Regions from separate parts of the Homo sapiens genome. Here region 1 is linked to region 2. The links come from fine-mapping of genetic effects on gene expression. A gene starts in region 2. The other region holds a variant in brackets. All regions are shown on one strand. Distances are from middle to middle. Region 1 overlaps NPRL3 (NPR3 like, GATOR1 complex subunit). Region 2 holds the start of POLR3K (RNA polymerase III subunit K).

Region 1 (8,000 bases), 44 kb after region 2:
GGAGGGCCCTGCCAGCCTCACCCCTTCCCACTCGGGGCTCCAGGCTCTGGCAGCCAGCAGCACTCACAGACATACGCTGGCATTGGGAGACAGCATGTAGACGTTGTTCTCACACAGCGGGTAGATGATGATGGCCTTGCCCCAGTACACCAGATGAGCTGCAAGCTGGAAAACCTGCAGGCAAAAGGGAAGCTGCAAGGACCATGCCTGAGGCTGGCCCACCGGGAGCTGTCAGCAGCTCTCAGCCTGGGTGGCCATGGCCTACCAGCCTGGAGAAGCTGGCCCCAGCCTCATGCAGAACACACCTGGTGGCTATGGCCCGAGACTTCCTCCCTAACGTGGAATAGCACCTTCGCAACCTCTCACTAGGATGTGGGGCACAGCCAGCACACAGCACTTTCTGTGAGCAATGGTTTTTTTTTTTTTTTTTTTGGAGACAGTCTTGCTCTGTCGCCCAGGCTGGAGTGCAGTGGCACAATCTCAGCTCACTGCAACCTCTTGCCTCCCAGGTTCAAGCGATTCTCCTGCCTCAGCCTCCTGAGTAGCTGGGATTACAGGCACATGCCACCACGCCCAGCTAATTTTTGTATTTTTAGTAGAGACAGGGTTTCACCATGTTGGCCAGGATGGTCTCGATCTGACCTCGTGATCCACCCACCTTGGCCTTCCAAAGTGCTGGGATTACAGGCATGAGCCACCGCACCCGGCCACAATGGCCTTTTTGTCACTGCTCCCTGTGCTGTTTGGTGGCACTGTTTTCCCATCCTATGCTGTCTTGACTCCCACTGAAGAATGGTGGTCTCAGGCCACAAGCATGGGAATGTCTGGGGTGCTGGGAACACAGTGCTGGCCCAGCTGGGCAGGGGGCTTAGCTGGATGTCCTGGCAGGGGCACAGCCCTCTTATACCCCCTAAAACTCCAGCATGGCCTTGCCCGATGATGGGTGTGGAGTCACTCAGCATGCCACCCCTACATACCCAAAGGCCCCAGGTCTGCCCCATGTGCCCCGACTCCCACAGAGACCCCCCTCCCAGCTTTGCTCTTGTGGACCCTTGAACATCAGGAAACACAAACACAACCCAAACCCCTTCCAGAGGAAAGCTCAGGCCTGAGGTCTGAGAGCACAGCACCCCAGCACTTCACGAAAAGGTGTGTGAAATCCTAAGCTCTCGCACTTCTGCCTCTGCATCAGCCCAGGACACCACTCCACCCTCTTGGCGGGTAGGCCTCTGTGGAGGTGAGTCACCCCTGCCTGGACACCGTGCTGCCCTGCTGCTGAGGACACTTATACCTCAGCTCAGAAAACAGGGCCTCCAGACTGAGTGAGTGGCTCATGCCTGTAGTCCCAGCATTTTGGGAGGGCAAGGCAGGAGGATCGCCTGAACCTCGGAGTTCGAGACCAACCTGGGCAATATAGTGAGACCCTCATCTCTGCCAAAAATTTTTATTTAATTAGCCAGGCACTGCGGCACATGCCTGTAGTCCCAGCTACTTGGAGGCTGAGACAGGAGGATTGCTTGCACCTGGGAGGTGGGGGTTGCAGTGAGCCAAGATTGTGCGAGTAGTGCCCCCAATGGCTCCGCCAACCCCGACATGGCAGGTTTCAGCTCCATCACCGCCCTGTTCCCTCACCCCACGTGCCACTCGCATGTCTCTCTCAAAAAGACACCCCCACTTTCCCCCAGCTCTGCTCAGCATAGTGGTCTCCACCTCCTGCCTCTCCCTGCAGCAGCCTCTCCAAGATGCTGTCCATTCTGGAAATTGAAAATCCAAAATCAGTACTTAAGGGCAAGCATAAGGTGCCAGCAGGACCAGGCTCCCTCTGGAAGCTCCAGAAGAGAATTCGTCCTGCCTCTTCAACGGCCAGTGTCTCTTGGCTTGCGGTCACGTCACTCCACTCTGTCTCTGTGGCCACATCGCTGCCTCTTTTTATCAGATCTTCCTCTGCCTCCCTCTGATAAGGGCCTTAGAGATTACATTTAGAGCTCAACAGGATGATCTTCCCATCTCAAGATCTTCTACTTAGTAACATCTCCAAAGTCCCACATGAGTTCACATTCATAGATTTTGGGGATTAGGATGTGTATATCTGTGGGGGCCATTATTCAGCCAATCACAACGAATATACAGCACGATCCTAATTTTCATAATACAAAATAAAATGTTTGTGTGTGTATATATATATATATATATATATATACACACACACACACACACACACACACACACACACAATAAAATGTATATATACAGATAAAAAACCTGGAGGGATCTAGGTTACCTGTGGGATATGGGACTGTGGGAACTTTCTGTGTCTATAATTTGTGTAGTGTTTGAAGTCTTGTAACATACTAATTTTATCATGACACACCCAAAATTTACTTGTAGATTCTCTCTGGATTGATATAAACATGAAGAATTTTATTTTATTTTATTTTTTGAGACTGGGTCTTGCTCTGTTGCCCAGACTGCAGTGTGTAAAATCACAATTCACTGCAGCCTCGAACACCAGGGCTCAAGTGATCCTCCCACCTCAGCCTCCTGAGTAGCTGGGACCATGGGCACACACCACCATGCCCAGCTAATTATTTAATTTTCTGTAAAGACAGGGTCTTCCTATGTTGCCTAGGCTGGTCGTGACCTCCTGGGCTTAGGCAATCCTCCTGCCTCATCCTCCCAAAGTGCTGGGATTACAGGCATGAGCCACTGCACCCAGCCACATGAGGGACTTTAAACTATCTGGTGACATTCACACCTGAGGCAGGTGCTCCCCAGGGGGCTATCTCCGGAAACAGAGTGACCCACCAGGGCTGGGCCCCAGGGGCTTCCGCACCGCCACACCAGCAGCAACGCCCTGCTGACCTGCAGCAGGGACAGCAGGGAAGGGGTACAGACAGAAGAAAACAATGACAAACAGCCTTCCCTCTCCCCAGTCAAGGCCACGGCAGGGAAGTGAAGGGGACATCAAAAGGAGACCAAAGCTTTGTCCAAGGAGACTCTGAGAGCAAGGGTGAGAGGCACACTGTCCACACAAACTCCTGCCAGACAACCTCAGAAGAGGGCATCAAAGCTTTGTCCAAGGAGACTCTGACAGCAAGGATGAGAGGCACAGTGTCCAGCACAAACTCCTGCCAGACAGCCTCAGGAAAGCCAGGCCCAGCTCCTTTCAAAAGCTCAACACAGGACCAGTGAACAGCCACAGGCATTTACCATGTGGTCGGTGCTCATCAGGACACGGAGGGTCACTGCCTCCCTCACTCTGCAGGGTTGTATGGAGTGGTGAGTTCTTTTAAAATTCTCTGTCTCCTGAATGCTATGAAGGTGGGCAGGACATGGTGTTTACTGAGTCCTGTCCAGCCCATGAAGTCCAAAGGCACAGCTGGGCATGGTGGCTCATGCCTGTAATACCAGCCCTTTAGGAGGCCAAGGTGCGATGATCACTTGAGCCCAGGAGTATGAGGCCAGCCAGGGCAACATAGGGAAACCCCGTCTCTACCAAAAAAAAAAAAAAAAAAAAAATATTAGCCAGGCGCACACCTGTAGTCCCAGCTACTTGGGAGGATGCTTGAGCCTGGGTGGATCATGATGGCACCACCACATGCCAGCCTGGGAGACAGAGCAAGAACCTGTCTCAGAAAAGAAAAAAGAAATACAAGGGCACAATTTGGTAAGTGCTCTCACAGAGGATAGATAAAGGGTCCTGAGATACAGAGGCGGGAGACTTACTCTCAAAGACAGAATCCAAAAAGGCTGCTTTCGGGGAAAAGTGGCCTGAGAGTCAGGCCTTGTTGGACAAGTTCCCCTAACGTGCTAAGCAGAGACCTGTTTCACAGGCCAAAAGAGCATGGAAGCTCAGCCAGAGGGACCCAGGCGGGCCCACCTCACGCCTGTGTTCCTCGGCAGCCTCTGCTGCCCCCTGGTGGCCATGCTGTGCACACCGCCACCAGACGAGGGCGCCACCCACAGGCACCACCTGCTCCCACCCTCAGGCAGTATTTCAATGGTCCCGTGGCTCTGGGCCACGCCCACATGACTAGCAGCCACAGCTGATCCCATGGCCTGTTGGCCACCCCATCAGCAGCCCCTGCTTCTGATTTCTCCCCGTGCTTTTTTTTTTTTTGGAAACAGAGTCGCCCAGGCTGGAGTACAGTGGCACAATCTCAGCTAACTGCAACCTCTGCCTCCCAGGCTCAATTGATCCTCACACCTCATACCCCCAAGTAGCTGGGACTACAGGTGCACGCCACCACACCCAGCTATTTTTTTTTTTTTTTTTTTTGTATTTTTTGTAGAGACGGGGTTTTGCCATGTTGCTCAGGCTGGTCTCAAAGTCCTGGGCTAGGATGACAGGCATGAGCCACCGTGCCCAGCCTTGCCTGCGCTTTTCCTCCCACACTCCAACCAGATCCGCAGACGAGGCTGAGGGGCCCTCCATCTAATCAGAAAGGGCAGCCCTCTGCATGGACAGGCCCATAAGCATGTGGCTCAGCAAGGACGTGGCATCTTGTACAGAGTGCACAGGCCAACACATGTGCACACACAGGGGCGTAAGGCCACCAGGTTAGGTCTCTGTTCTGCACATGGGAGGGCCCCGCATCCAA[G/C]CTTCCTGCCCTTAGTTCCCGTATGTTGTTCATGCACCACTGTGAGACCCCCATGGCCCTGCCCGCTGCTGCCCTGCCCACCCCCTAGCTCTGGTGCCTCAACCTCCAGGACTGCAAGCACCCCAGTCCTTTCTCTCACAGACTCGCCTTACCTCTCTGAGACAGAAGAACAAGTCAGTCCCGTGGCTCACTCACAAAGCCAGCCCTGAACCCAGGTCTGACTCAGATGCCAAAACCTCCAGCCATCCCAGGGACTGGCCCCACCCCATGGTGGGCTGTGCCGCGGCTCTCAGCTGGACACAGCCCCTGTGGATGTACTGTGGCAGGCGGCCTGCCTTTCCTGATGCCCCAGCACCGCCACATGCCACCCATCTGGGCCTCCAGAGCTATACCTGCAGCAAGGCCAGGTCCGCATCTTGGGCTAGCTGCTGCAGGTTCTTCACAGCAGATGTGGTCTTGATCACCCGCACTAGGGCAGGGGAGCAGTCAATAGGAAGCTCACCCAGCAAGGACTTCTCATCACTGAGCAGCAGCAGGGCATGGTAGGGGCTGCAAAACAATCACCTGTCACGGAACACACGAAGTGCAGGAACCCTGCACCGGGTATGCACCAGGTCCTGCACCAGGTATGCACCGGGTATGCACCAGGTCCTGCACCAGGTATGCACCGGGTATGCACCAGGTATGCACCTGGGACTCAAACACACGGAACATACGAAGTGCAGGGAACCCTGCACCAGGTATGCACCAGGTCCTGCACGAGGTCCTGCACCGGGTGTGCATCAGGTATGCACCTGGGACACAAACAGGCAGCTGGAGCCTCCTGGCCCTTAACTGCGGAGAGAAGGGCCAAGAGCGGGATTTGAGAAAAGGGCAGTGGTCTGTTTGGAGGCCTTCACAAAATCTGCCAAGGACTGGCTCATGCCTATAATCCCGGCACTCTGGGAGGCCAAGGCAGGCAGGTCACGTGAGGTCAGGAGTTCGAGGCCAGCCTGGCCAACATGGTGAAACCCCATCTCTACTAAAAATAAAAAAATTATCCGGGTGTGGTTGCACCCACCTGGGGTCCCAGCTACTCGGCAGGCTGAGGCAGGAGAATCACTTGAGCCTGGGAGGCGGAGCTTGCAGTGAGCCGAGATTGCGCCATTGCACTCCAGCCTGGCGACAGAGTGAGACTCTGTCTCAAAAACAACAAAAACAAAACCTGCAAGGATTATGTCACCCTCGGAAAAAAACACGACAAAAGTGGGGAAGGCTCGAAGACTGGACTCTGTATCCCACCTCAGAGACGCCCAGCAAACATCTGTTGATTGAAGACATGAATGAATCTTTCCTAAGGAAATTGTCCCAAATATGGGAAAAGCAAAATCCTCCTCACAGACTAGGGACCAAAGTACATTAAAATATGCTTAGCTAGGATTGAAAGCAAAGAGCACGGACTGGGGAGGGTGGAACTAGGCAGCGCTTTGCTTTCTGTCATTTCCAAATTTTCAGCAATGTGCCCAGATATATTTTTATAATTAAAAAATGTTCAAGGTATTGGGGGACTTGGGAACAGGTGGTGCCAGAAGACTGGGCTCAGTTCTTTCCTTGCAGAAAATCAATTAAATTGCCAGGGCATGGTGGCTAACACCTGTAACCCAGCACTTTGGCAGGCCGAGGCGGGTGGATCACGAGGTCAGGAGTTCAAGACGAGCCTGGCCAACATGGTGAAACCCCATCTCTACTAAAAATACAAAAATTAGCCAGGTGTAGTGGTGTGCACCCATAATCCCAGCTACTCAGGGGGCTGAGGCAGGAGAATCGCTTGAACCCGGGAGACAGAGGCTTCACTGAGTGGAGACTGTGCCACTGCACTTGAGCCCCGAGCAAGACTACATCTCAAAAAAAAAAAAAAAAAAGTCAATTAAATTAAGAAAGTATATTTTGGGAGGCTGAGATGAGCGATGAGTGGATCACCTGAGGTCAGGAGTTCGAGACCAGTCTGGCCAACATGGTGAAACCCTGTCTCTACTAAAAGTACCAAAAAAATTAGCCAGGCATGGCAGTGGGCGCCTGTAATCCCAACTACTCGGGAGCCTGAGGCAGGAGAATCACTTGAACTTGGGAGGTGGACGTAGTGGTGAGCCGGGATCGCACTACTGAAATCCAGCCTGGGCGATAAGATCAAAACTCTGTCTCTCTCTCACACACACACACACCCCCGCAAAAAAAAAAAAAAAAAAGAAAAAGAAAAAAAAAAGAAAAAGAAAATAACTGAGATCCCATGAGTGCTGACTGAAATGCAAAAGACTGGGGTAGGGCAACACCATTAAGATGAAGTCCCTCCAGCCCTCCGGCCTCCCCAAGGACACTCAGCCCCACATCCAGGCTGCCCTGCCCAAGCCTAAGGTGGTGCCAGAAGGGCCCAGGAGAAACCTGGGATTGGTCATTTCTGGACACAACTGGATACAAAATTATGTGTTTTAACTTCTATAAACGGCAGAGCCCCACCTGCAAGCTTCCGCAGTGGGAAGAAGAAAAAGAGAAATTTTGGAACAAAGTAAGTGGTAAAATCTCAGGCAGAAGCTAAAGGGAAGGGCCCTGGCAGGGAGTGAGCACGTGGGGCTGGGCACTTACCGGATGGCTTTCAGGCTCCGTTCGATGGCCTCTGGGGGGATCAGACTGGAGGCCGCATAGTGGATCTTGTGGGGCAGGCAGAAGCTCACCTCCAGCCAGCTGTTGATGTGAAGCCGAACTACGCCCGACGTGCACAGGCTGCAGAGAGTGGGCGCTGTTACCCGTTCACATAAACTTTCTAACCATGCACACAGATCAGAAAACACCCTGCTCAATGGTGCTGATTCCCCTGCTGCTTAGGGGAAACTGCAGGTGGAGACCCGGGCAGGAGAGCATCTCTTAAGATCACATTATGTTTAAGAAAAGAAAATATGGGGGCCGGGCACGGTGGCTCATGCCTGTAATCCCAGCACTTTGGGAGGCCAAGGTGGGCGGATCACGAGGTCAGCAGTTCGAGACCAGCCTGGCTAATAACACGGTGAAACCCCGTCTCTACTAAAAATACAAAAATTAGCCAGGTGTGGTGGCGGGCGCCTGTAGTCCCAGCTACTCGGGAGGCTGAGGCAGGAGAATCACTTGAACCCAGGAGGTGGAGGTTGCAGTGAGCTAACATCACGCCACTGCACTCCAGCCTGGGCAACAAGGCAAGACTCTGTCTCAAAAAAAAAAAAAAAAAAAAGGAAGAAGAAGAAGAAAGAAAAAGAGAAACATATTTCTGGCTAGCCCTGGAATCTGTAGTCCAACCAGACTGCCAGGGCTTGAGAGAAGCCGTACCCTGTCCTGGGGACTCAGTGCACTAGAGGCACTCTAACTCAGGCCCCTGCCCGTCCAGACCCCTGG
Region 2 (11,298 bases):
ATGAAAGAATAGGACTTTACACAGAGCATATTTAGTTATGGGTCTCTGTCTCCTCCCCACACAGAAAAACTCCCAGACATTCATGACTTCATCCACCCTGCCTGGCAGATAGGCCATATTTCCTGACCCCCTGGCTCTTCACCTCAAAAGGTTTATCTTTCCACCACACTAGCAAAGACCCTCAGGACACACAACTCATACTGCCAGCTAAGCATCTACCCCGAGGGACAAGGCAAGCACACACTAGGGCAGCTGGGCCATCCTGGCCCTAATCCCTCCAGCGGTGTCCACACTGAGCATTGCAGCACTTGTAGAAGGTGGTCATCGGCTCATCTGCAGAGCGGGTCTGAAGCTGCATGAAGTAAGCACGAGGATGTTCGCATTTGGGACACGACTCTGGCAATGAGAAAAAAGAAGTGACCACATTTAAAAAAAGATGCTACTCATGGCTGTCAAAAGTAGGTATTACTTAATATGTGGGAGGCCAAGGCGGGCGGATCACCTGAGGTCAGGAGTTCGAGACCATCCTGGCCAACATGGTGAAACCCCATCTCTACTAAAAATACAAAATTAGCCAGGCGTGGTGGCGGGCGCCTTTAATCCCAGCTACTTGGGAGGCTGAGGCAGGAGAATCGCTTGAACCCAGGAGGCAGAGATTGCAGTGAGCCAAGATCGTGCCACTGCACTCAAAAAAAAAAAAAAAAAAAAAAAGTAGGTATTACTATAATATCTTTTTTTTTTTTTTTTGAGATGGAATCTCGCAGTCACCCAGGCTGGAGTGCAGTGGGGCGATCTCAGCTCACTGCAACCTCTGCCTCCCGGGTTCATGTGATTCTCCTTGCCTCAGCCTCCCAAGTAGCTGGGATTACAGTTGCCCGCCACCACACCCGGCTAATTTTTTTGTATTTTTAGTAGAGACAGGTTTTCACTATGTTGGCCAGGCTGGTCTCGAACTCCTGACCTCATGATCCGCCCACCTCAACCTCCCAAAGTGCTGGGATTACAGGCATGAGCCACCGTGCCCAGACTACTTAATATCTTTAAAGATGGTAAAGAACCTCCCTGCTCATTTGATCCCCCTTGACAAGGGTAGATCTACAAACAGTGATGTCATTCCCACCACGCTGTAACACTAAGGGAATCTGGGAGACCTGTGACTCACACACTCTCCCCCTCCCCTCCCTGAGTCCCATGGTTCTTCTCAAATCCAGCTGAAGGCTGGTTGGAAACGTAACATGGAAGGTGACTGTTTTGGTCCATTTTGTGCTGCTGTAACAAAATGCCTAAGACTAAGTAATGGTTAGATGGTGGAAGAGTTTTGAAGTAAATGCTGGGAAAAGCCTGCATTGTCAAGAATTGAGCATTAAGGGCCGGGCGCGGTGGCTCACGCCTGTAATCCCAGGACTTTGGGAGGCCAAGGCAGGCGGATCACGAGGTCAGGAGATCGAGACCATCCTGGCTAACATGGTGAAACCCCGTCTCTACTAAAAACACAAAAAATTAGCCAGGCGTGGTGTCGGGTGCCTGCAGTCCCAGCTACTCGGGAGGCTGAGGCAAGAGAATTGCGTGAACCCGGGAGGCGGAGCTTGCAGTGAGCCGAGATCGCGCCACTGCACTCCAGCTTGGGCAACAGAGTGAGACTCCATCTCAAAAAAAAAAAAGAATTGAGCATTAAGGGCGATTCTGGTGTGGGCTGAAAAGAAGAGAAGAGGCCGGGTATGGTGGCTCTTGCCTGTAATCCCAGAACTTTGGGAGGCTGAGGCAGGTGGATCACGAGGTCGGGAGGTCAAGACCAGCCTAGCCAAGATGGTGAAACCCCGTCTCTACCAAAACTACAAAAATTAGCCGGGCGTGGTGGCAGGTGCCTGTAATCCCAGCTACTAGGGAGGCTGAGGCAGGAGAATCGCTTGAACCCGGGCAGCATAGGTTTGCAGTGAGCAGAGATCGTGCCACTACACTCCAGCCTGGGCAAAAGAGACTCCATCTCAAAAAAAAAGCCAGGCACAGTGGCTCAGGCCTGTAATCCCAGCACTTTGGGAGGCTGAGGCCAACAGATCACCTGAGGTCGGGAGTTCGTGACCAGCCTTATCAACATGGAGAAACCCCATCTCTACTAAAAATACAAAATTAGCTGGGCGTGGTGGCGCATGCCTGTAATCCCAGCTACTCATGAGGCCGAGGAAGGAGAATCACTTGAACCTGGGAAGTGGAGGTTGCAGTGAGCCGAGATCACACCATTGCACTCTTCAAAGCGATTTCACTTTGAGAAACTTATCCTACACCTGACAGAAATGGCTTCAAACACTCTATTTCTGACATTAGGTAAAAAGATTTTTTTTTTTTAGACAGTCTCACTCAGGCTGGAGTGGCATGGTCTCGGCTCACTGCAACCTCCGCCTCCTGGTTCAAGCAATTCTCCTGCCTCAGCCTCCTGAGTAGCTAGGACTACAGGCACGCGCCACTGAGCCTGGCTAATTTGTTTTTTTTTTTTTTTTGAGACGGAGTTTTGCTCCTGTTGCCTGGGCTAGAGTGCAATAGCACGATCTCAGCTCACTACAACCTCCGCCTCACAGGTTCAAGCGATTCTCCTGTCTCAGCCTCCCAAGTAGCTGGGATTACAGGCAGGCACCACCACGCTCAGCTACTTTTTGTATTTTTAGTGGAGACGGGGTTTCACCATGTTGGCCAGGATGGTCTCGATGTCTTGACCTCGTGATCCGCCCACATTGGCCTCCCAAAATGCTGGGATTATAGGTGTGAGCCACCGTGCCAGCTGCTAACTTTTTCACATAGCAGATTTGTATGTTCTTTTTTTTGACAGAGTTTCGTTCTTGTTGCCCAGGCTGGAGTGCAATGATGCAATCTTGGCTCACTGCAACCTCCACTTCCCGGGTTCAAGCGATTCTCCTGTCTCAGCCTCCCGAGTAGCTGGGATTACAGGTGCTGCCACCACGCCTGGCTAATTTTTTGTATTTTTAGCAGAAATGGGGTTTCACCGTGTTAGCCAGGCTGGTCTCGAACTCCTGACCTCAGGTGATCCGCCCGCCTCGGCCTCCCAAAGTGCTGAGATTGCAGGCGTGAGCCACCACACCCAGCCTATATGTTCTTTTATAGGGGGAAAACCACAGTACTAACCATCAGTTATCTCTCTCACCTCTCAATATAACTTACATTTACGTCTTCCCCTTTCCTCTCCTGGCCACATCTATGTCTACCAGACATGCAATAAACATGTATTTTACCCAATCTGCAGTTTAATGCTCACTGGTATTAACTTCTAAAAATCTATATTAGAAGCGTGTATTAGTCCGTTCTCACACTGCTATGAATACCTGAGACTGGGTAATTTATATAGACAAAAGGGGTTTTGTTTGTTTTGAGACAGAGTCTCACTCTTGTCACCGAGGCTAGAGTGCAGTAGTGTGATCTCGGCTCACTGCAACCTCTGCCTCCTGGGTTCAAGCAATTCTCGTACCTCAGCCTCCTGAGCAGTTGGGTCTACAGGCGAGCGCCACCACACCCGGCTAATTATTTTATCTTTAATAGAGACAGGGTTTCACCATGCGGGCCAGGCTGGTCTGGAACTCCTGACCTCAAGTGATCTGCCTACCTTGGCCTCCCAAACTGCTGGGATTTACAGGCGTGAGCCACGACACCCAGCCAAGAAAAGAGGTCTAATTTACTCACAGTTCTGCGTGGCTGGGGATGCCTCAGGAAACCTACAATCATGGCGAAAGGAACCTCTTCACAGAGCAGCAGGAGACAGAATGAGTGCGAGCAGGGGAAACGCAAACGCTTATAAAACGATCTGATCTTGTGAGAACTCACTCACTATCAGGAGAACAGCATGGGGGGAAACCGCTCCCATGATTCAATTACCTCCCACTGGGCCCCTCCCAGGACACCTGGGGATTACGGAAACTATAATTCAAGATGAGATTAGGGTGGAGACACAGCCAAACCATATCAAACAGAAAGAACATACTTTTTTCCTTAGACTCTTATTTTTATTAATCTACTCATCATTGCCATTATCAAAGCTATCACCTGTTGAGTGCCTCTTATATACCAAGCACGGTATAATTCACTTTATGCTCTCGCGGTCTACGAATATGGATTAGCCCCAGAGAAGTCAAGAGACCCAAGGAAGGTCCTACAACAATACAAGGTTGCCCTGAGAATCTGACCCGGGCCTGTATGACTCCAAGGCTGGCACAAATATTGCTTGTCTGACAGATTATTAAACAGTAACAAATACAAATAAATTATTCAAGAACCATTTTCTATTTTTAGAAACCTACATCATTTATATGACATCATAGACTCTGCCAAGCAGTGGCATCAACAGCCTCATAATTATCCACAGTTTAGCAACAGAAACAGTTTTCCCTCTTACCTGCAGTAGAGTCAACATTCTCCCAGGCAGCTGCTCCACCAAGCACATCATCCACTTCTTTCAGTTTTGGGTACTTCCGATTTGTTACCTAACAAAAACAACACTTCAGACTCCAAGTAACTGAATAGCGCAAACCTGGGCTGCCAAACCTTAAATTTCAGGATTACATAAGAGTTCACTCGGCTGGGCGTGGTGGCTGACACCTGTAATCCCAGCACTTTGGGAGGCCAAGACGGGCGGATCACGAGGTCAAGAGATCGAGACCATCCTGGCTAACACGGTGAAACCCTGTCTCTACTAAAAATACAAAAAATTAGCCCGGCGTGTTGGCGGGCGCCTGTAGTCCCAGCTACTCAGGAGGCTGAGGCAGGAGAATGGTGTGAACCTGGGAGGCGGAGCTTGCAGTGAGCCGAGATCACACCACTGCACTCCAGCCTGGGCTACGGAGCAAGACTCCATCTCAAAAAAAAAAAAAAACAAAGAGTTCACTCTTCCCGTAGTTTCAAACTCCAAACTCCCACAACACAGTACAAACTGGAGTAGCATGCAAACATTAAGACTGACGTAGCACCAACATATTCTAACTGCTAAAAAGTAAAGGTATTCTGGCCAGGCGTGGTGGCTCACGCCTATAATCCCAGCACTTTGGGAGGCCAAGGCAAGCGGATCACCTGAGGTTGGGAGTTCGAGACCAGCCTGGCCAGCGCGGTGAAACCCCGTCTTTACTAAAAATACAAAAATTAGCCGGGGATGGTGGCAGGCGCCTGTAATTCCAGCTACTCGGGAAGCCGAGGCAGAAGAATTGCTTGAACCCGGGAGGCAGAGGTTGCAGTGAGCCGAGATTACGCCATTGCACTCCAGCCTGGGAAACAGAGCGAGACTCTGTCTCAAAAAAAAAAAAAAAAAAAAAAAAAAAAAAAAAAAAAAAAAGGTCGGGCGCGGTGGCTCACGCCTGTAATCCCAGCACTTTGGGAGGCCGAGGCGGGCAGATCACGAGGTCAGGAGACCGTCCTGGCTAACACACGGTGAAACCCCATCTCTACTAAAAATACAAAAAAATCAGCCAGGGGTGGTGGCGGACGCCTGTAGTCCCAGCTAATTGGGAGGCTGAGGCAGGAGAGTGGCGTGAACCCGGGAGGCAGAGCTTGCAGTGAGCCGAGATCGCGCCACTGCACTCCAGCCTGGGCGACAGAGCGGGACTCCGTCTCAAAAAAAAAAAAAAAAAAAAAAAAAAAAAACAATAAAAAAAAATAAAGAAAGCACACAATACATTACATAATATATTAGAAGGTAATAAGCCCTATGGAAACAATTACAAAGGGAAGGAGAATAAATTGGAAGGAGGGGCTGAAATTTAAAATACGGTAAAGACAAGACCAATGAGTAAGGTGGCGATCTAGGGGAAGAGTGAACTGAGCAACAGCAAGTGCAAAGGCCCTGCTAGCACCATGAGCACGATGAGAGATCGTCCAGGAGGCGGTGTTGATGCGGCAAAGGGCAACAGGAAGGGCATTAGGACTTGAAATCGGAGACGCACGCAGGGGAGGGAGTCAGTGTCGGAACCTGGTAGGCCCTGGGAGAACTCCGGCTTTTCGTCTGCGTGAGCTGGAGAAGAGCCGAAGGTTTCTGCGCACAGCACGGACCTGCGTGCCTCAGCTTTAAGGAAATCACCGTGGCCGCCGCTGTGAACGCAGAGAAGGGCGCGAGCGTGGGAGCAGGAACCCAAGGCGGTGGGAAACGGTGGGGCTTTCTGAGTGTATTGGAAAGTAGAGCCCACAGATCTGCTGCAGACCAGAAAGGGGCGCGAGAAAGAGCGGACAGAGGCAGACGCCGGGGCTGGCGGCGATGGAGCAGCAGTCGGAGGACGCGGAAGGCCTGCGAGAGTCGCCCGCGCCCAGCGCCGGCCTTCGGGTCCCACCTTGCGGGTGATGTTGTGCACGTAGGGGCACGTGTTGCAGGCGAAGCGGTGGCAGCGTTGTCCCTCCTCCACGATCAGCCCGTTCCCGCAGCCGGGGCAGAACAGCAGCATGGTCTCGAACTCCGCAGGCTCCAACTCCCGGCAGCTCCCACTGCCGCTCAGCGCCGATGCGCCGCCCGCCTCGAGCTCACATTGGTCCTGGCAGCCTTCCCGCCACACCAACCAACCAATAGACAGGGCGATTCTGCGCTCCCGGCCCTGCTGCAGGCTGTCTCGCACTTGTCATTGGTCACTGCAGCCGCCCCACCCCCCCCGGCGCGCCAGTGGCTGGGCGGCCTCGCTGGGGCGGGCCGCAGTTCCTGCGCGTGCGCGCTTGGCCTCCCTAGTGCGGGCTGGCAGTGCGGGCAGAGCCCGGCTGAGAGGGGCGGCCCTGGAGGAGACGGAGGCCGCGGGTGGGCCCGAGGCGCAAGAGGAAGATGAGGACGAAGAAGAGGCGCTGCCGCACTCCGAGGCCATGGACGTGTTCCAGGAGGGTCTGGCTATGGTGGTGCAGGACCCGCTGCTCTGCGATCTGCCGATCCAGGTGTGTGCGGGCGGGGGCTGGGGGCGCGGGAGTCGTTCCCCGGGGTCCGGGCATCCGGGCGCCGGCAGCCTCCGAAGGTGCTGGTGGGAGACTGCGGCCCAAGGCTGAGGAAGGCGCCTCTGGGCGTAAACGAGGGTTTTAACCTTGACCGGGCGCACTCGCCTGGGGCGCGAAGCTTAAAGAGGAACCAAAAACCTCATTAGTGAGTGACATCAAATGACATTTTAATGTAATTGTATTTAGGGGGCTCGGGGGACAGGGTCTTGCTGCGTTGCCCGGGCTGGAGTGCAGCGGCGTCCTCCCACCTCAGCCTCCCGAGTAATTGGGACCACAGGTGCGCGCTACCACACCCGGCTAATTTTTAAATATTTTGTACAGAGGGAGTCTCACTATGTTGCCCAGGCTGATCTGAAACTCCTGGGCTCAGGCGATCCTCCTGCCTCGGCCTCCCAAAATGCTGGGATTTAGGTGTGAGCCACCCGCCTGGCCTGTAATACCTTTAAAAGTCAAAGTTGAGGCAAAAAAAGAGCCTACGGTAAAAGAAAAATTTAGTTTTAAATAAGAGCAAGATTAGTAGTACTGATTGTTCCATTTGCCTCAAGCGTCAATCATGTGTCAAAGCGTCAGTATCATGCTTTGGGACGATACTGTCTTTTTATTTATTTATTTATTTATTTGAGACTGAGTCTTGGTCCGTTGCCAGGCTGGAGTGTAGTGGTGCCATCTCGACTCACTGCAACCTCCCCCTCCCGGGTTCACTACAGGCACGCGCCACCACGCCCGGCTAATTTTTTGTATTTTTAGTAGAGACGGGGCTTCACCATGTTGGGCCAGGATGGTCTTGATCTCCTGACCTCATGATCCGCCCGCCTCGGCCTCCCAAAGTGCTGGGATTACAGGCGTGAGCCACCGCGCCCGGCCAATTTTAAATGTTTTATATTTTGCTCATCATGGATATTTTAATTGCCTTGTATTTCTTAAATGTTGTATTAAAATATTTATTGTTATTACCGTGTTTTGCTGCCCCGGTAAATTTTGCACACCTGCCTTACTCAGTCCCGAAGCCTGGCCTGGGTCCTGATGATCAGGGATATACTCAGCGTGAACTGACAGGCCTCTACCCACCCCTGGGGGCAGGTCCTCATGTGAGTTTATTCTCTTGCCTGTTTCTTAGCACCTCTTTCCCCCAGAGACTCTGTCCACTATGGACATTAAAATGTGAGTGGAACATGAGATTGGGGCTCTGATGAATTGGGAAACCATAACGTACAGGCAACCACCCTTCCTTGCCCTTCGTAAAATGGAGCACCACTTTTTGGCCACTATCGGCTTGTTCTTTGTTGTTGCTCAAGGTGGTAAAGAGAGCCAGGGTTCCCACTTCTGCCCTTGGTCTTTTGTAGGTTACTCTGGAAGAAGTCAACTCCCAAATAGCCCTAGAATACGGCCAGGCAATGACGGTCCGAGTGTGCAAGATGGATGGAGAAGTAATGCGTAAGTGCTACCCTCCTCCCTTCAGGTTATGTGGTCCAGGCTTTCACAGCAGGAAGACCTAACAGTGCTGGTCAGCCTGCTCAGAAACTCACAGGCCATGCCCAGGGGTACTGGGGCAACCACAAACCTGCCCTGTGCACAGAGGTGTTGGTTCCTTTCCTGCCATCGGAGGCTGTGGCTTTGGGTTCTCACCATGGATCTTCTCCCATCTGTGTCCGTGGTTGCAGCCGTGGTTGTAGTGCAGAGTGCCACAGTCCTGGACCTGAAGAAGGCCATCCAGAGATACGTGCAGCTCAAGCAGGAGCGTGAAGGGGGCATTCAGCACATCAGCTGGTAAGTGGAACAACATTCCCTTCATTATAGCCCTTCGTGGGGCTAGTGCCCTTCTTGGCACTGTCACCAGGCACCACCTGGAAACAGCTCTCAGCTCTGCATGAGTACAGCACCACTGAAGTGATGAGCTCCCTGTCACAAGAGTGATGAGCTCCCTGTCACAGACAGTGCGGGTCGTTCTGTGCCTGGGACTCCTGCCTCGGCCATCCCCAACATTCTGCTCTTCCATCGGCATCACCCCATCCGAGCTGCTGGGTATCTTCACTTGGGGACACTGTCGGGAATTTCCAGTGTGTCTGGAAGTGGCCTCCCTAGTTTTGGATGGTACACCTGTAGGGGCTCCCATCCCCTTCTCACCTGGGTGCTGTCAGCCCTCACTCTCCTATTGGATCAACTATCCTGTTCACTGAGTCTCAACACTGTCGCCTGTTGCATTAGCAAGGTTTGTTTGGCCAAGCCGCCCCAGACAGCCCTCTGAGAACAGAGCCTCCTTGTAGCTGCCTCAGACCCAATCTGCACATTGTACAGAACAGCCCAGGTAGGGAGGACAGCTGCCCCAGGTCCCATAGGACTGCATGCCTCAAGCCCACGTCATGCAGAGCCACTCAGCTCACCCTGCTCAGGGCACGTGGTTTACCTGCATTCCCCTCTTGCAGGTCCTACGTGTGGAGGACGTACCATCTGACCTCTGCAGGAGAGAAACTCACGGAAGACAGAAAGAAGCTCCGAGAGTAAGTGCCGGCCACGTCCTGAGCCGTAGGGCACCGCTGTTCTGTTGCCCCTTAGTCCCCCATGCTCTGCCAGAGGGCTGCGGCTCCCTCTCCGGAGATAACACCCTCCTCCAAGGAGCTTCCTTGGGGCCCTCCCCACTAGGAGAATGGCAGGCAGAGGGCAGCTGGAGGGGCCTTGCTGCTTCCCACCAGTGGCAGCTTAGGGCTACACAGTGCCAGGAGGGAGGAAATCAGAGTGGGCATGGAGGCGAAAGGCTGTGACTCTATCTGACACTCAGTTCCCTGCCCCGGGGACTTGTGAGTCGGAGTGCTTCTGGGTCTGTGAGAGGATGGCCACTGCACTTCCTGGCCTTCCCAGAAGCCACACGCCTCCCCTCTGTTGTTTCTTCGTGGTCCTCCACAGCCTCAGGAGGGGAGTCACAGATATGTCCTTCTGTAGGGCAGGTGCTTTATGCCTTTCCTTCTTTTTCAGCTACGGCATCCGGAATCGAGACGAGGTTTCCTTCATCAAAAAGCTGAGGCAAAAGTGAGCCTCCAGACAGGACAACCCTCTTCATCACTGGTGGCTGAGCTTTTTCCCAGCAGGAATGGGTCCTCGAATCATCGTGCCTCTTTCACAGAAAGGACGTTGTGGTGGCCTCACCCCAGGCATGCCCAACAGTAACTGTCAGCATAAACCTGGGGGCCCTCAGGACTAGGACAGGGTGAGCCAGTGCTCCCTCCTTTCATGTACTTGGCCTGAGACTGACCTCTCCCTAGGTCCAAATGCCCTAGTCACATGGCAGACCCACGGCCTGGCCCACTGTATAAAATAAACCTGTTTGCTTCTTAGTTTGAAAAGTAGAAAGCCACAGTAACCTGGGTAGCAAAGACTGAGATTGCCCCATCACAGAGGTGAGTTAAGGGGAGAGAATTGGTACAGGCGAGTCCTATAGTCCAAGATGGCGCCACACCACCAAAGCCTTGAGGCCACACCACTCCCCAAACCACACAACTGTGTTACCATGATCTCCACAGCAAGGAGGAAATAAAAGCAGAGCGGCTTTAGGGTTTGCATCCTGGAGCTCACAGTGGCAGCAAGCATAGCACAGCTGTGTGTGGGCCCTCCAGCCTCAGCCTTTAGGGTTCCCTGCAGCAGGTTCGGTGGACAGGGAGGGAGTGTGGGGTGGAAATTGGAGCTGCTAAGGGTGGGGGCGGGGTGCTTCCCAGCATGTGGGGAGGGTATGACAGTACATCCCTAGGTCCCTGTCCCAGCGTCGGCTACCAGCCACTCTAAGAAAGAGCAAGGTGCACGTGCCTGGCTGAAGGATTTCACTGGGAAGTGAAAGAGCCCGTGACTGTATCTGACACTCAGTTCCCTGCCCGGGTGAGTCAGCCACAAGGGGCCTGCAGGACCTCCCTCCACAGCTTCCAGCCAGAAACAAAGAAGGATAGGGAAGCCCTGGTCAAGTTAATGGCAGCTAAAACGCTCCCAGTCCATTTATTGGCCACATGAGGTGGTCGTCAAGAAACAAGTTAGAAGGTTATGACAGGAAGTAGTATAATAAATGCCCGGCAGTACGAGGGGTTCAACAGAAGTGAACAAGGCACAAGAAAGAGGTCTGTGTTCAGGAAACAGGCCAGTCCCCACATGGAGCAGGTGACTCCTGTAAGCCTGTGAGGCTCAGGGAGGTCGTGTCTGGCTCTGGCCTGCTGGAGCACACGGCCGCTGGAGCCCGCAGCCAGCTCAGTGGAGCTGAGCGTCCAGTTCGTACTTCTCACAGAACTTGTCAGTGAAGGGGATGCAGGTGAGGAACTCACACCACTCACAGCGGACAGGATAGACGTAGAAGAGGACCACCAGGCC

What was found. PIP is the estimated chance that this variant, and not a neighbour inherited with it, causes the effect.
Region 1: its variant is the best candidate, but not a certain one, in a credible set for the expression of POLR3K in monocytes (Quach 2016, PIP 0.84).

The regions. Positions count from the first base shown.
Region 1 is chr16:93,152-101,151 of GRCh38, forward strand. NPRL3 (NPR3 like, GATOR1 complex subunit) reads right to left here. Exons shown (of 14, transcript NM_001077350.3): 8 at 7,221-7,358; 9 at 4,994-5,150; 10 at 68-174. Among named protein-coding and RNA genes, the nearest start is that of MPG, 19 kb to the left of the region's middle. The variant G/C (reference allele first, on the strand shown) is at 4,602.
Region 2 is chr16:47,162-58,459 of GRCh38, forward strand. POLR3K (RNA polymerase III subunit K) reads right to left here and starts at 6,447. Exons shown (of 3, transcript NM_016310.5): 1 at 6,315-6,447; 2 at 4,397-4,484; 3 at 1-396. The coding sequence starts at 6,425. The coding sequence ends at 269. It overlaps SNRNP25 (small nuclear ribonucleoprotein U11/U12 subunit 25), which reads left to right and starts at 6,667. Exons shown (of 5, transcript NM_024571.4): 1 at 6,667-6,897; 2 at 8,298-8,388; 3 at 8,616-8,721; 4 at 9,378-9,452; 5 at 9,925-10,508. The coding sequence starts at 6,856. The coding sequence ends at 9,982. It overlaps RHBDF1 (rhomboid 5 homolog 1), which reads right to left. Exons shown (of 18, transcript NM_022450.5): 18 at 10,898-11,298. The coding sequence ends at 11,179. RefSeq lists enhancers at 5,713-6,239, 5,968-6,127 and silencers at 6,458-6,777, 6,918-7,017.